2 separate regions of the Homo sapiens genome follow, and region 1 is linked to region 2. The links come from fine-mapping of genetic effects on plasma protein levels. A gene starts in region 2. The other region holds a variant in brackets. All regions are shown on one strand. Distances are from middle to middle.

Region 1 (8,343 bases), 9.2 kb after region 2:
TATTACCACAATAAAAAGTTGTAATAATGCAAAAATAGAATCACCCAAGGCAATTGGTAAAATAAATAAATAATGAATTCTCTCTTGTGAATAGAATATTGTCCTGTGTCATATCTGTGGGTGTGAAAAGTGCTATTTCATTAAATGTAAACATTTAAAGTACATCTCTATTTTTCGTAACCTGGTTTGGGCATTTCATCATTTTTTTATTGCTTCAGTGGTCCTCAAAAAATGCAAACTGGCCAGAAGCGGTGGCTTATGCTTATAATCAAAATCCCAGCACTCTGAGAGGCCAAGGCAGGAGGATCAATAGAGGCCGGGCATTCAAGACCTGTCTGGGGAACATAGGGAGACCCCATCTCTACAAAATAATAATAATTTAAAAAAAGCCAGATGTGGTGGCATGCACCTGTAGAGCCAGGTACTCTGGAGGCTGAGGTGGAAGGATCACTTGAACTCAGGAGGTTGAGGCTGCAGTGAGCCATGATCACACCACTGCACCACTCCAGCCTGGATGACAGAGGGAGACCCTACCTTTAAAAAAAAAAAAAAAGGGCAGGGGTTCAATAACTCTTGATCTCTGAGTTAATAAGCAGGTTAGAAGAGGCCATCTAGTCTAACCACCCCTCGATGTGGGATGTCCCTTTCCATTGACCCTGTCAGATGTCTCCATATGTTGCTTAAACCCTTCCAGGAACAGGAAGCTCATTACCTGAAAAGCAACTAGTTTCATCGTTAGACACTTGGCTTGTCCTCAGGATCCCCCTGTGGTGGGGCAGGTTGGCCTCCGGGAAACCACCCCATGGTTCCTAGTGCTGGCCTGTGGAGCAGTCACATGAGAGGCCAGCCTGTCCTTCTTTGACTGTCCTTTCTCCATGTTCCGTTCCTTTTTTCTTCTCAATGGATCCTCTACAATATGGTTCCTGGATGCTACAGATTTCAATCTACTTCAATCTTCCAGAGAATCCTCACTGCATAAAACTGTGCTTGTTATGGTCTTCATTGTGGTGCAGATCCCAGAACAAAACTTGCTTTCACGGGCCTTCCTCTGGGCCAGGGCAAGTGCCTCCTGTGAGCAGACTAGACCCTCTATTCAGGAAGCCACAGATTCATGGGCTCTTTGTAGCACCTGGGCCTCATTTGTTGCCACTGTTGAGTTTATGGCCATTAAATATCCAGATCCTCTTGTCCACCCCCAACTCTCCCTGGCCAGGTGTGGACTGCCATTGCAGCCACCTGCAATGGATTCACCGATAGCCCTGGTGGAGCCAATTTTACCTTCTACATATGGAAGATGATATCAGTTTCATCTTCCTTGCATTAAAGATCTGCTGACACTGTCCACAAGACCTCAACTGGCCCATGGCGCGGCAAGTGGGGGTGGCTTCAGCCAAGACAGTGATGCTGCATTAATGTTCATGAGCGACCCCAACCCTCAAGGAAGTGTCTGTTCACTAACACACCACTCTCACAGCCCAGTCTTTTCATACTAATCTCCCTGTACAAAGAATGATCTTAATAACAAAACAGGCAAAAAAAATCAGAGGAAGAGAGCTCTAAAGGCATATTTCAGCTTTCAAGGTTTTTTTGTGTGTGTGGTGGTGTTGTTTCTTTTCTCAAAGCTGCTGGAAGTCTCAGTTATACAAAACAGGCTTTGGTCACTCCACCCATATTAGCCCGAATAACATGCAAACTTCTGGCCCACCATGGAGCCATTCCAGCCCCCTACCCCACCCGCAACCCTCACCCGGCACAGATGTTTCCTTTTAGTTCCACTGGCCCCATGTCAACAGAAATGTGGCCCGGCTATAACAGAGGCAGAGAACTTTCCACATGCCCTTCAAAGGTAAGAGCATATAGACAGCCTGGTGCAGGGGCTCACACATGTAATCCCAACTCTTTGGCAGGCAGAGCTGGGAGGATTGTTTGAGCCCAGGAGATGGAGGCTGCCGTGAACTATGATCATACTACTGCACTCCAGCCTGGAAAACAGAGCAAGACCCTGTCTCTAAGAAAAAAAAAAAAAAAAACTTTGTTGGCCTAGTACTCTGTCATTCATTCAAGTATTGGCTCTGTCCCTGTGTACCGGGCCCTGAGTTAGGTAGGTCCTAACTCAACCAAATCTTAGCTCTCAAGGGGCTCACAGTCCTTGTTGTTTTATCCTTAAAGCTCTGTAGTGTGGCAGTGGAAAGAGAATGGAGTCCCGAGTTCCAAATTTGGTTGAGATACCTGGCACTTGTGTCGTTTTGGATGAGTTACTCAAGACCAAACTCCTCTTCTGTAAAGTGGGGTAATAATCTCTACCCTGCTTGCACATGGGATTCTTTCAAGGAGCAAACTGAGGTCTCGCATGGGAGACAGCTGAGCAACCTGCAAGGTTGTGGGAAGGAGGAGGGGTGGTCTGAGCCACCACGCTGTCCCAGTGTGTCAAGGAGCTTGATAGCCTCTTTCCACACCTCGATTCCTTCCACTCCAAGGGACAGTAACTTAATCACCTGATTTGTAACTTTGGGAATAATAAACTGGGCATGCACTTACCTGATGCCCTCAGCTATAATAGTTCACACAAGAGGAGAAAAACAGATAGCCCTATAGAATGCTACAGGAGATTTCAATCTTCTTTAGCTGAAACTCCCTGACTTCCCATCATGTCTGAGAATTTGGCAAATATAAACCCAGCTGTGTGTTTAGGGATCTTTGAGTTTCTAAATCATCACACTATCCCTACACAGCTTTGCTGGAGGTTTTGCAGGTTTCCCTTTCCCCGGTAGAGTTCCTCTATGTTCCCAAGCCTGATTCTTATTCCACGTCCAGAATCTGCAAATGCCCCCAGGGAAGGAAATGCCAGTGACAGCCTGCTCACTTCAGAAAGTCTCCCCCTTCTCTGGAATTTTAGGCCATGAAATCCTCTTTACTTCCAGAGCTTCCCAAAATCTTTAATGATATGACTCTTGAAATGCATTCAGCATTTTTAGCTGCAGCAGCATGAATGGTGGTCCACCATGACCTACATATCCTACCCAGAACTGAAGTCAAAACACTTGTTGAACACCTCCCTTGGAAAATGTCCTCTGATGGGCATTAACACGATTCCCGACTATCTGCGCTTTTTTTGGCCCATTCCCACAGGTCCATACAAATCCCTTTTCTCTGATCATCCCATCTTACTCCTTTCAGGCCCTTGTCCAACTAGCCAAGTTACTCCCTACTATCCGGGAATCCACGTGTACCCTTATCCCTTTGTGCAAACTTAACAACCAAGTGCACTGGCTGCACTCAGTTCTCTCACTGCTGTCCTGCAGGGCTGTAATGCAGGAGCAGTCCCTTTGGGGCACACATCAATATAGAGAACCAACTCATCCACAAGGCAGACCTGGGGTTTTCCTCTTCCAGTAGCTGGCTGCAGGAGTCCCCTCCCCCATGAGGTCATAAGTGTGGATGAGAGGCACTGGCGAACAGGGGTGACAGACGAATCTGGGCTACCTGGTATATTCCTTGGTTGTGCCCACTGAACTGCTCAGGCCTAATCCTGAATGTACATTTTCATGTTGCATGGATTGTTGCTGCACCCACCCAAACTTATGACCTGGTGGGTCTGACAATAACCAGCATGATGGGTGGCTCAGGTCACTTGAGGTCCCAGGGTTGGGTATTCAGTCTCTAATTGGGCCCAGTGGCAAGCCAGAAACTTCTTTTCAAACTCACTCATTTGGAGGTGAATAGCTTTCCACCACATGGCCTTGCTCCAGAATCCTAGGGTCTGTGCTACAACGTTCCTGTTGGGCCTGCCAGAAACTACACAGCACCCTTACCTGCCCCAGATAGCACTAGCTCCGTTGGAATTTCTGGGTCACATGGAGCAGGAGGGATGCTTGTAATGCAGCTTAAACAGGCTTCAGAGTCCTGTCTTATTCTGGACTCCCATTCACAACTGGTAGGTTTGTGAATTACTCAATAAATGCATTGAGACAGCATTCTCAAGTACAGCATTCTTGTCTCCAAAATCCAGAGGCCCAACAAGTGCTGTACTTCTCAGTGAGGGTAGTGGGGATGAGGGTGGGTGCAAGGTTCAAAATCTACCACCTTAGAGGGGGTATCTCTCAGAATGCCCCACACCACTGGATACCTAAAAACATTATCAGTGTGGTGGTCTCCTTAATCTTCA[T/A]GGGGTTTATTTCCCACCCTCTCAGGCATGTGTCTTTTACTAGGACTTCCAACGGCTTTCCACGTCCTATGTACTAGATCTAATAAACATGATTTTATCAACATAAATAGATCAGCGCGATGGCCCTGAAGATATCACTGTGACAAAAAGTAGGTGATTAACATAGACCGCTGACAAGACACTGAACACATTTTGCAGTCCTTCCACATAAGAGATCTGCTTTTGACCCTTCTTGTTAATGGGGATTAAGGAAGAATTTTCCTAACTTATAGCCACATACGAAGCATTGGAGGCTGTGCTGATTAATCTTAGTGAAGATACTTCATCCAACAAAGCAGTGGAAATTGGAGCTCTCTCGTGTGTTTGGTGGTCATCTACCATGATTCACCTGGCTTTTACAGGGGCCACAGAGATAAGATAAATGGCAATGAGGCGGGGACAACTACCCTTGCATCCTTAAAGTCTTTGATGTTGGTCCTAATCTCTGCAATTTCTCCCAAGATCCAATATTGTCTCTGATTTATTATCTTGGCCAGGGAAGGGAGGCAGTTTCCAACCTTGACCCTTCTTACCATTGTGGTTTTCATTCCATCCCATTTATGACATCTCAATTGTACCACATCCATCCCACCTACACATTTGGGGAAGGAAATTATCCCAGGACCTAATGACCATTGTGAGCCAGACTTACTTGTACCATCCATTTATTACCTAGCCTCCATCCCCCATCCCCTTTGACTGGAGAGCCTTGGTGGCATTTCAGGTCTCCTAATACAGGCATCAAGTCAAAACCCAGATTCAAAAGGCTTCAAATCACCTTTCCTCAATGCTGGTATTCCAGACTGGAGAACTATTATTGTAGGTGCTGATGGTGATATTACAGGATTCTTATTTAAAGACACCAACCTCCCTCCTGTCAATGGACTTTGATCTGTGAACTGGCTTACGGAAACTGGGTGAAGGACTGGAATTTCCCATTATAGTGGTTGACATAAGCTTTTTATGCTCCAATTATTATTATTTTTAATTTTGACAAGTTGAGTAAAATCCTGATTGGCTGCCCATGTCTTAACCCTCAGAACACATAATCTATTAGCTACGGTCTGACTGCCGTAGAGGCAGAGGCGAGGCTGAGGACAGAAGGTAATCCATCAGAGGCATCTAGCAATGCATGGAACATTGTTTCCCCACTAACTAGCAGTTACTTTATGGCCATTATTTGGGATGTATAAATAACACTGGGATAAACTCCTCTGTATTAATGTTTCCACTCCCCTTGTATCATAAATTATTTACTTTGATTACATGCCCAGAAGTAGAATTACTAGGTCAAAGGGCAAACATTTTTAAGGCTTTTTGTTGAGAAGGAGTCTCGCTCTGTAGCCAGGCTGGAGTGCAGTGGCGCGATCTTGGCTCACGGCAACCTCCACCTCCTGGGTTCAAGCAATTCTCCTGCCTCAGCCTCCCAAGTAGCTGGGATTACAGGCGTGTGCCACCATGCCAATTTTTGTATTTTTAATAGAGATGGGTTTCACCATGTTGGCCAGGATGGTCTCGATCTCTTGACCTCATGATCCGCCCACCTCAGCCTCCCAAAGTGCTGGGATTACAGGCGTGAGTCACCACACCCGGTCTTTTAAGGCTTTTAATGCACACTGCCAGATTGTTTTCCAAAAAGTCTGGAATAGCGAAGACTTATTCTCTACTGGCAGTTTGTATGTTAGACAACTGGCTTTACTGAGCAAACAAACTACTGTTAATATTCTAAACTCGGCCAGGTGCTGTGGCTCACGCTTGTAATCCCAGCACATTGGGAGGCCGAGGCAGGCGGATCACAAGGTCAGGAGATCAAGACCATCCTGGCCAACATGGTGAAACCCTGTCTCTAATAAAATAAAAAAAATTACCCAGGTGTGGTGGTGCACGCCTGTAGTCCCAGCTACTCAGTAGGGTGAGGCAGGGGAATCGCTTGAACCCGAGAGGCAGAGACTGCAGTGGGTGAGATCACGCCACTGCACTCCAGCCTGGCAAAAGAACGAGACTCCGTCTCAACAACGAGAAAAAAATCTAAACTCATGTCCCAGTGCAGTGGCTCATACCTGTAATCCCAGCACTTTAGGAGGCCAAGGCAGGAGGATTGCTTGAGGCCAGGAGCTCAAGACCAGCCTGGGCAACATAGTGAGACCCTCATTTTAAAAAAATAATTTGCTGGGCATGGTGGCATGCCTGCAGTCCCAGGAAGGTGGGAAGATCACATGAGCCCAGGAGTTTGAGGCTGCAATGAGCTATGATTGCACCATTGCATTCCAGCCTCGGTGACAGAGTGAGACCCTATCTCTAAGAACAAAGAAAAGAAAAAAAATTAACTCGTGATTTGGAAGACTAAAGAATCAGAGACAAAAACCCACTTGAATATTATTTAACATTGCATTTCTTATACTCCGCCCTTACTTTGACCAACTTCAATGTTCTTCTACCTAATGTTTATTTAAAGACCACTAAAGACAGCTGTGGCTCTGCTGGATCAAACAGGTCTGTCCCAGGATAATATTTTTCCAAGTCTTTGCCAGTCTCTGTCTTCAGTTTTCTCTTCTCTCACTCTGACAGTTGCAACAATCAGATCTTTCCAATAAATGCCTCTCCTGGAGAGTCCCTGCTCATATGGTGTTTTGTTTCATTTGCAATATACGTATATTACATGTAGGGGTGGCCTTCAGGGAAAGGTATGGGGTGGCTAGAAACAGATTCCACCATCTTTTTCTCTTCTTTCTCCATTTTTACTGGAAGTGCTTAGCCAGCCATCCAAGCTGGTAGCTGCTTGTCATACCACTGGCATGGCAAAGCCTCATCTGTCTGTCTGAAGGGAAGTGAAGCAGAGCTGAGTCTGACATATATGACAGTACCCATTCTAATTTATGCATCTCAAAATGATCCACTGGAATCAACCATCAAAAGCAAATGCTTCTAAACTTTATTCACACTCGAGTTGCATCTCTGCGCCACCACTGCCAATGTTTTGTCATGTCACGGGCAGTCAACCAGGAGCAGGGAAGGAGAGACCAGGCTGATTTCTGCCTTGTTGGGAACACTGTCATGGTGCCTGTAGATAGTCACTGAAGAAACATAAAAGATGAAAACCCAGGCTATGCTCTCAACAGGGCAGAAGCTCCCCCATTAAGCCCAAGTCTAGGCAGCTGCTTCTCTCCACAGGGATGGACCTGGCCTTGCTGGGAGGAACGCCCACACCAGGACCTCTGGAAGCAGTCCCAAGGGCTTCAGCTCACATTATGTTCTTTCCATTTGGTGATAAATTCCTAACGCCTTACCCCATTTGCTAACTGGAATGCAGAGAGCAAATGCCACGGTTGAAACGCTCTCCTTCGTGAATCAGCTCCTTCCCCAGGGTGTTTTAAGATTTAGGAGTTTCAGTTCCCCTAGAAAAAAAAACAAAGGCTGCTCTACACATGAAGAGACTTAATTTTAACACACTGCACAGTGAGACTACAGGCTTATAGGAAGAGCCTTCTGGGCCAGCAAGCATAGTCTTCCTTTCAATGCTGAGAGCATGAAGGCAGCTGAATTATCAAATGACAACATCTTGAAAGCTGCCTTCTTAATGCTGACAAAACAAAATCTTAGGAAACACCAGGGAGTGGTTATAAAACACAAAGCAATTTCAAAACAAGAGTGATAAGAAAGGATGGCTAAGGGCCAAAGTGGCTGCCACTAAAGCCCCTGAACCTAGGGAATTCCATTCGGATCTCTTGGAGGGCAGGAAGTCAGAGCTGGACTTTCCCAGGATTTGGGATGGCTAACCAGACAGACAGACGCCCTGGGTGTGTACCTGCAGCAGAGTGCCTCCTCTTTTTTCCTCTCCCAGAACCACCCAAATACACAAGGTGAATGAACTTTTCTTTGTGATTCTTATTTTTAAAGTTCTTCAAGGGGAAAAAAATTCACAAAATACATATCATAAGCATTTCCTGTAAACCAGTTTCTGTCAGGTCTTTACTCCAGCTTGTGGGGGTCTCCCTTGGTGGCAGAGCTCTGGATTTGTCTGCCACTCACTAGATAAGGGCCAGACCCAGATGGGTCACTGAATGGTGCCTTGGCTTCAACTGAAGAACTCTAGACATACCAAACCAGACCAGAAAATAGCCTTTAATTTTACATGTACA
Region 2 (7,318 bases):
ATTGCAACCTCCACCTCCCAGGTTCAAGCAATTCTCCTGCCTCAGCCTCCTGAGTAGCTGGGACTACACGTGTACACCATCACACTCAGCTAATTTTTGTATTTTTAGTAGAGACAGGGTTTCACCATGTTGGCCAGACTTGTCTTGAACTCCTGGCCTCAAGCGATCCTCCCACCTTGGCCTCCTAAAGTGCTGAGATTACAGGCTTGAGCCACCACGCCTGGCCAAGGCACCTGGATTCTAATGTATCTCCCAGATGATGTTGATGCCTGAGTGAGAACCACCATGGTTCATGTCTTAAGAGCAGAGACGGTGTTTCTCTGCTGTGTGTCCAGCATATAGACTGGTGCCTACGTGGAGAAAGAGCTCTATAAGTGCCTGCCATGTTGGTGGGCGGGAGACTGCCATGGGTTTCAGCGAGAGGCAGGGCCTGGGTGGCTGTTCTGTTGGCCTGTAGCCCTGGAACTCCAGGGGCCCCTTCTATGGAGACCACATAGGGCCAGGGTTCAAGTGTGACAGCTGGAGAGAACCAAGGCATCACGTGCTCTGACCCTTTTTTTTTTAACATGAGTTTAAAAAGATTTACATAATTATATTAATACTGAATCTTTGGTAAACTTGAGAAGCTGGCGATGGTTTTCCACATTCAAAAATTCTATGATTTGCCTTTGGAGCTGCATCTTTTACAAAGGCTCTCCCTTGGTGGCGATTTTGGCTAATGCTCATAGACGTAACTATGCACGGTATTGTCTTCTCTTTTTAAATGAACATTTTGTGGAAGGTAATATACACACATAATTTTTTAAAATCCAAACAGTTCAAAAAGCTGGTTTCTTTCCCAGTTGAGACTGCGCCCAGCCCCTGGTTTTTCTTCCCAGAGGTAATCACTGTTACTCACTCTTGTGGATCCTTCCAGAAAGAACTTATGCACATACAAGTAAAAATGTATTATTATATAAATCCCTTTTTCAAAGCAAATGTCAGCATCATACTCATTCTCTTTTGAATGTTTCTTTTTTCACTTTGTAAACTGAATCTTGAAGATGATTTTTTTATCAGCAGCCAGATTTGCCCCATTCTTTGTCACAGTGTTGTGAGGCCCCATGGCCCCGATGTCCCTTTATGCACTGCACTAGTTCCTGGCCAGTGGGCAACTGTCCATTTATGAAGAGCCCCGGGAGGGCCTAAGGGAGGCCCCCACAGCCCCTTCTTTCCTTTTCTGTGCCCTTGGTCCTAGCTGCTTGTTTCTCTGCCTCAGTCCCCACCCTCATCCCCTTGGACTCTCTTCTAGCCTCTGCTCCCTGGGGGGGTGACAGCCCCGTCCATTGCCATGACATTCCACTGATGTTGTCTCAACACAGCCTGGGGTGACCTCACTGCAGGCGGGGCTGCAAGGGCAAGTCTTGCTGTAGCCAAAGCAACCGAGGGACACCCCAATCCCCAGAGGCTACAAAGCAGAGCAAAGCTGCTTCTGGTGGACTAGTCTGAGTTACATTTATTTCCTGAAGGCTGTGATATGCTACAGAAATGAGAATTCATTTCTTCTTCTTTTTCTTTTCCCTGTGCATCAAGCAACAAGTGAGGTGCCTTTATATATTTTGTATCATAAAATCTTCATGAGAAGTCTTTGAACAAATACCACTGTCCCCATTTTACAGTTGAGAAAACAGGTTGGAAGACTCCAAAGCCCAGCCTGTGCAGCTCTCCCTGGTAAGGGCTGAGCGCTGCCAGACTCCCAGGCCAAAGGTTTGGTTTCTTTAAAATATTGGGGATGAGGGGAGGAGAGAAGAGCAAAGATCAGTTTGGATGATCTGGAAGGTTCTTCCCAACTCTAAGGGTCAGGGATTCTTATGATTCTGACAACCAACTCTGCTATGAGAGAACTCCCCCAAGCCCCAAAGCCCACTTTACTCAAGTTCCCTAGATGACTCAAAAGGAGGAAAATGAAGGAAAGGAGCATGAGGACACACTAAGGAGAGGGGGACCTGCTCCCTGGAAGATGGCACAGGGCTCTGTCCCCCTCCTTACCTTTCTTGGCATTTACAATCTTCTTGGGCTTCTGGGTTGGTGGCTCGGTGGTGACCTGGGTCAGGAGGGAGAAGAGGCAGAGGAGGAGGTAGGCCCCCCAGAGCTCCATGCTGCTGCGCGGGCGGGGGCTGCTGCTGCCTGCAGCGGGTCTGGGTCCGAACGCAGTGACAGCCACGGCCCAGGCTGCACGTCTTAAGGCAGCAGCCAAAGGACCTCTGTCCAGGAAACCCTCCCCAACTTGGCTGCAGGCGTGCCAAAAAAATAAAACAAACACACAAGCCTGCAGAAGGATGAAGTCCTGAGGGCCACAGAGCCTCTCTGCCAGGGAACACCCACGCAGCATCCTGGCCCTGCCTTCTAGAAAGAAGCCCTTATTTCCTAGGATTCTGAGAAACACACGGTGGTTGTCATCACATCTGCGGAGCAGCTACCTTGGGTAGGGGCTGAGGCTGGCTGTTCACTAACATTAACTCACAGAAGCTTCACACCCAAACCACGAGGGAAGCACTGTCCTTTCCCCATTTTACCATTGAGGAAATTGAGGCTCGGTGAGGTTAGGGAATTTGCCCAGGCTACCCAGCTGTCACGGGGTAGCAATGCCCCCTTATAGGGTGATCTGGGGCTGGCTGTCTGATTGGTTTAGAATATTTGTTATGATTATTTTGTGGCTCTGTCTCCATGTACTTGATGCATTTTTTGGTTAAAAAATCCAAGGGATTCCTTCCCTTCTTGTCTTCCCTTTCTCCTGAGTCCTGTCCTAAAGCCACAAAGTGGGGCATAGCAAAGGTGGCGGAGGGAGAAGCCATCGTGCCCCAGAGGTACCAGAGAGGATGTGGGGAGAATGTGCCCTCAAGGGGTGGACTGGTGTGGGGTGTGGGAGCCCAGCAGGGTGGAGGGAGCATCCTGGGGAAAGCAAAGGCCCTGCCTGGAGTGCTGGAGTCCAAGTGAGGCAAGGAGGGGATCCATGTGGGAGAGAGGCTGGTGGCAGAGACGGGAGATTGGTTACACACAGGGATACTGATCAAATAAATCTACTGAAGACAGTGGGAGTTAGGTTTCCTATTGTCAGAGAAGGAAGTTATGTATATGGAGAGAAAACTGGAATGAATCCTGTTGTGTGGGATTAAAATCGGAATGATCAGTGTACCCTTGTGGCCTTGAATACATAAAGATAAGTCCATATATATAGATGGAAATGTGTGTGTGTCTAGTCCCCACAGTCACTGGGGGGCCTGGAGCAGCCAGCCCCGCATAGCCTGGAGCACTCCTAGCACCTGAATACTGGCTTCTGAATATGACTTTCCACTAAAGGAACCAGAGCACCTTGCAGAAACGGCTGATTCTAGCACTGGGAAGTAGGAGTGGGGTGCAGAAAATGAGCCCGGAACTTGTTGTTTTGCCAGAAAACAAGGAAGTGCTTAATGAATAATGGGAACACGTCAGTAGGACACAGAGCCAGCTTGAAGGAGCCTTCAGTGGTCAGAATCAGGGACAATTTGAGCACCAACATAGTGACAGTAACAGATGGGAAACCACCAGTGCACACAGATATAAGTAAGTAAGGGAACGCATTGAAAGTCTGATGTTCTTCAATGGGATGTTTACATAGCCTCAAAGTATCTGCCCACAAAACACTTATCCATTCCAGAGAGAAAAAGAGCAACTTCATGGTGAAGAAGGCTGGCAGACATCACCTCATCTGTGACCAAAGTAAACATCAACAGGGCCAATAAAAAGCTTGCAGCACCTGGGGGGCTGCAGTGAGAATGTGGCATCACTCCATAGGACTCCGGCCAGAGAGACATCAGACAATCCCAAATGGAGGAGCATTCTGCAAAATGACTGCCAGTAATTTTCAAAGCTCCTGGCTGAGGAAGTGTTTCAGGCTGAAGGAGACTGAAGACACAGAACTAAATGCAATATGTGATTCTGGACTGGACCCTCCATTCTCAAGGATGCAGTTGGGACAACCAGAGAAATCTGATGGGGTCTGAGGAGCACACGGCAGTGATGTGTTGTCACATGCTGCATCATGACAGTTCAGTCAACAACAGGCCACATATGTGATATGCTTCCATAAGATTATAATGGGGCAGAAAAATTCCTAACACCTAGTGATGTCACAAAGGGTTGTAAAGTCATAGTGCAACTCATTATTCCCAAGTTTGTGGTGATGCTGGTGTAAACAAATTTACTGCCAGTCATATCGAAGTAGAGCATATAAGGTCATGTTAGCACATAATACTTGATTTTGTTAGTCCGTTTTCACACTACTCTAAAGAACTGCCCAAGACTGGGTAATTTAGAAAGGAAAGAGGTTTAATTGATTTACAGTTCCACACGGCTGGGGAGGCCTCAGGAAATTTACAATTGTGGCAGAAGGTGAAGGGGAAACAAACACCTTCTTCGCAAGGAGGCAGGAGGTACAATGAATGCAGGAGGAACTGCCAAACACTTATAAAACCATAAGATCTCATGAGAACTCACTATCACAAGGACAGCATGGGGGAAACCACCCCCATCGTTCAATGACCTCCACCTGGTCTCTCCCTTGACACATGGGCATTATGAGGATTACAATTCAAGATAAGAATTTGGGTGAGAACATAGTCAAACCATATCATTCTGCCCCACATGATTGTGCTTTGAAATGTGAGAGCATGAGATTTGGGAGGGGCCGGGGTGGAATGATATGGCTTGGCTGTGTCCCCACCCAAAATCTCACCTTGAATTGTAATCCTCATAATCCCCATGTGTCATGGGAAAGACCAGGTGGAGGTCATTGAACCATGGGGGCAAGTTTCTCCCATGCTGTTCTCGTGATAGTGAGTCTCATGAGATCTGATGGTTTTATAAGCATCTGGCATTTCCCCTGCTTGTACTCACTCTGTCCTGCTGCCATGTGAAGAAGGTGTCTGCTTCTCCTTTGCCTTCCACCATGATTATTAGTTTCCTGAGGCCTCCCCAGCCATGCAGAACTGTGAGTCAATTAAACCTCTTTCCTTTCTAAATTACCCATTCTTGGGCAGTTCTTTATAGCAGTGCGAGAATGAACTAATACGATGATAATAAATGACCGTGTCACTGGTTTATGTATTTACTGTGCTATACTTTTTATCATTATTTTAGAGTGTACTCTTTCTACTTTTTTTTTAAAAAAGTTAACTGTGAAACAGCCTAAGGTGGGTCCATCAGGAGGTTTTCCAGAAGAAGGCACTGTTATCATAGGATATGATAGCTCCATGTGTGTGACTGTCCCTGAAGACCTCCCACTGAGACAAGAGGTGGAGGTGGAAGACAGTGACACTGATAATCCTGACCCTGTGTAGGCATGGGCTAATGTGCGTTTGTGTCTTAGTTTTTAACAAAAAGTTTAAAAAGTAAAAAAGTAATAATAACTAGAAAAAGCCTATAGAATAAGGATATAGAGAAAATAATTTTGTACAACTGTTCAATGTGTTTGTGTTTTAAGCTAAATGTTATAAAAGTAAAAAAGTTAAATGAGTTCAAAAGTTTACAAAGTAAAAAAAGTTATGGTAAGCTCAGGTTAATTTATTATTAAAAAAGAAAACCATTTTTTAAAAAAATGTAATGCAGCTTATGTGTGCAGTGTTTTATAGAGTCCAGAGTAGTGTACAGTAATGTCCACGTTCACTCACCACTCACTGACTCACTCAGAGCAACTTCCAGTCCTGCAAGCTCCATTCATGGTAAGTGCCCTATACCAGTGTATCATTTTCTTTATCTTTTATATCAGGAGTCCCCAACCTCCAGGCTATGGACCAGTACTGGTCCACAGTACTGGTCCGTGGCCTGTTAGCAACTAGGCCCATCAGCAGGAGGTGAGTGGTGGGTAGGCGAGCATTACCACCTGAGCTCCGCCTCCTGTCAGGTCAGCAGCAGCATTACATTCTCATGGGAGCACAAGCCCTATTGTGAACTGTGCATGAGAAGGTCTAGGTTGCACACTCCTTATGAGAATCTAACGCCCAATGATCTGAGGTGGAACAGTTTCATCCTGAAACCATCACCCCAACCCCGCATCCGTGGGAAAATTGTCTTCCATGAAACCAGTCCCTGGTGCCAAAAAGGTTGGGGACTGCTGTTTTATACCATATTTTTACTCCACTTTTTCTATGTTGAGATACACAAATACTTACCATTATGTTACAACTGCCTACAGTATTCAGTGCAGTCACGTGCTGTACAGGTTTGTAGCCTAGGAGCAACATACCATACCTGAGAGCCTAGGTGTGTAGTAGGCTATGCCACCTAGGTTTGTGTAAGTACACTCTGTCATGGTAGCACAACGATGAACTCGCCTGACAATGCATTTCTCAGAACGTATTCCCATTGTTAAGCAACGCATGACGGTATCCCTGTTATGGTCCTACTTGATGGTGTGCTGTGATTATGTAGGAGAGTGTCTTTGTCTGTAGGAAACACACATACTGAAGTATTAGACAGCGATATGGTACTGTGTTGACAACTTACATAGTTCAGGGGGAGAATGTTCTTTGTACTGTCGTTGCAAATTTTCTGAGTTTGAGATTCTTCCAAAAGAAAATACAATACTATGTACTTCAGGCTTTTCCCTGCCTTCTAGGGACCCCACCTTCCCCTGTCTGACTTAGGGAGGGATCTCTTATGTAGTAGGCCAGGGAAGCAGGAGGCCAGCTGGGCTGGCCCAGTGCACAGTAGTCCTGCCAAGGGTGGGGGCCCTGAGCACGGAGCAGAGCATTTGCACGGCCCCTCAACGACACTGGGCTCCACCTCTCACATTCTCAGAGTGGGAAGGGTTTTATATTCACAGCTGGGCCCTCGGGAGACAATTTGGAGCCTGATGATTACATAACCTAAAAGGGGCCTTGTTCCTGGAACTCTGGGTGGGTAGCAGATGGTAAAAGAAAATTAATATTTTTGTTAACTGCTTTGCTTTCTTGGTTTTCTCACCTTGGCCCAACTCTATCTTGGCCCTTCAGTGGTAGGAAAATGAACGAAGTATGCTTTCTAAACATGAGGCAACCAGAGGCCCCATGTTTTCCAGGGCTGGCTGATGGTTGAAGCTATGGGGACTGTGGTGGCGTCTCACAGGGCACCGAATGCAGCCAGGGCAGGGCAGAAGGAAGGTGGCCCTCAGGCTGAGGAAGGGACACAGAGGGTGTGGCCAGCTGAGGGGAGGAAGGAATGAGCACAGGGCTCCAGGTGGAAAACACACAAGCAGAGTCTTGGAGCCAAGCAAAAGCACCTTGCATTCCAGATCCCGAGCCAATGAGGACAGGGTGGGGAA

Which allele goes with the higher level. Alleles are on the strand shown, and positions count from the first base shown. The strength of an association depends on the size of the effect and on how common the allele is.
For the plasma level of the protein whose gene starts at base 2,197 in region 2, allele A in region 1 goes with a higher level than allele T (moderate association).

What was found. PIP is the chance, under the fine-mapping model, that this variant and not a neighbour inherited with it causes the effect. Protein levels are from antibody-based Olink assays in UK Biobank. Linkage for the fine-mapping came from a reference panel and not from the study's own genotypes, which makes the PIPs less certain.
Region 1: its variant is fine-mapped to the plasma level of the CLEC3B protein (UK Biobank, PIP 0.95).

What each region holds. Positions count from the first base shown.
Region 1 is chr3:45,011,439-45,019,781 of GRCh38, reverse strand. EXOSC7 (exosome component 7) reads right to left here. Exons shown (of 8, transcript NM_015004.4): 8 at 8,311-8,343. Among named protein-coding and RNA genes, the nearest start is that of CLEC3B, 11 kb to the left of the region's middle. RefSeq lists an enhancer at 7,569-7,688. The variant T/A (reference allele first, on the strand shown) is at 4,166.
Region 2 is chr3:45,021,182-45,028,499 of GRCh38, reverse strand. CLEC3B (C-type lectin domain family 3 member B) reads right to left here and starts at 2,197. Exons shown (of 3, transcript NM_003278.3): 1 at 2,029-2,197. The coding sequence starts at 2,137. RefSeq lists enhancers at 816-1,315, 1,316-1,817.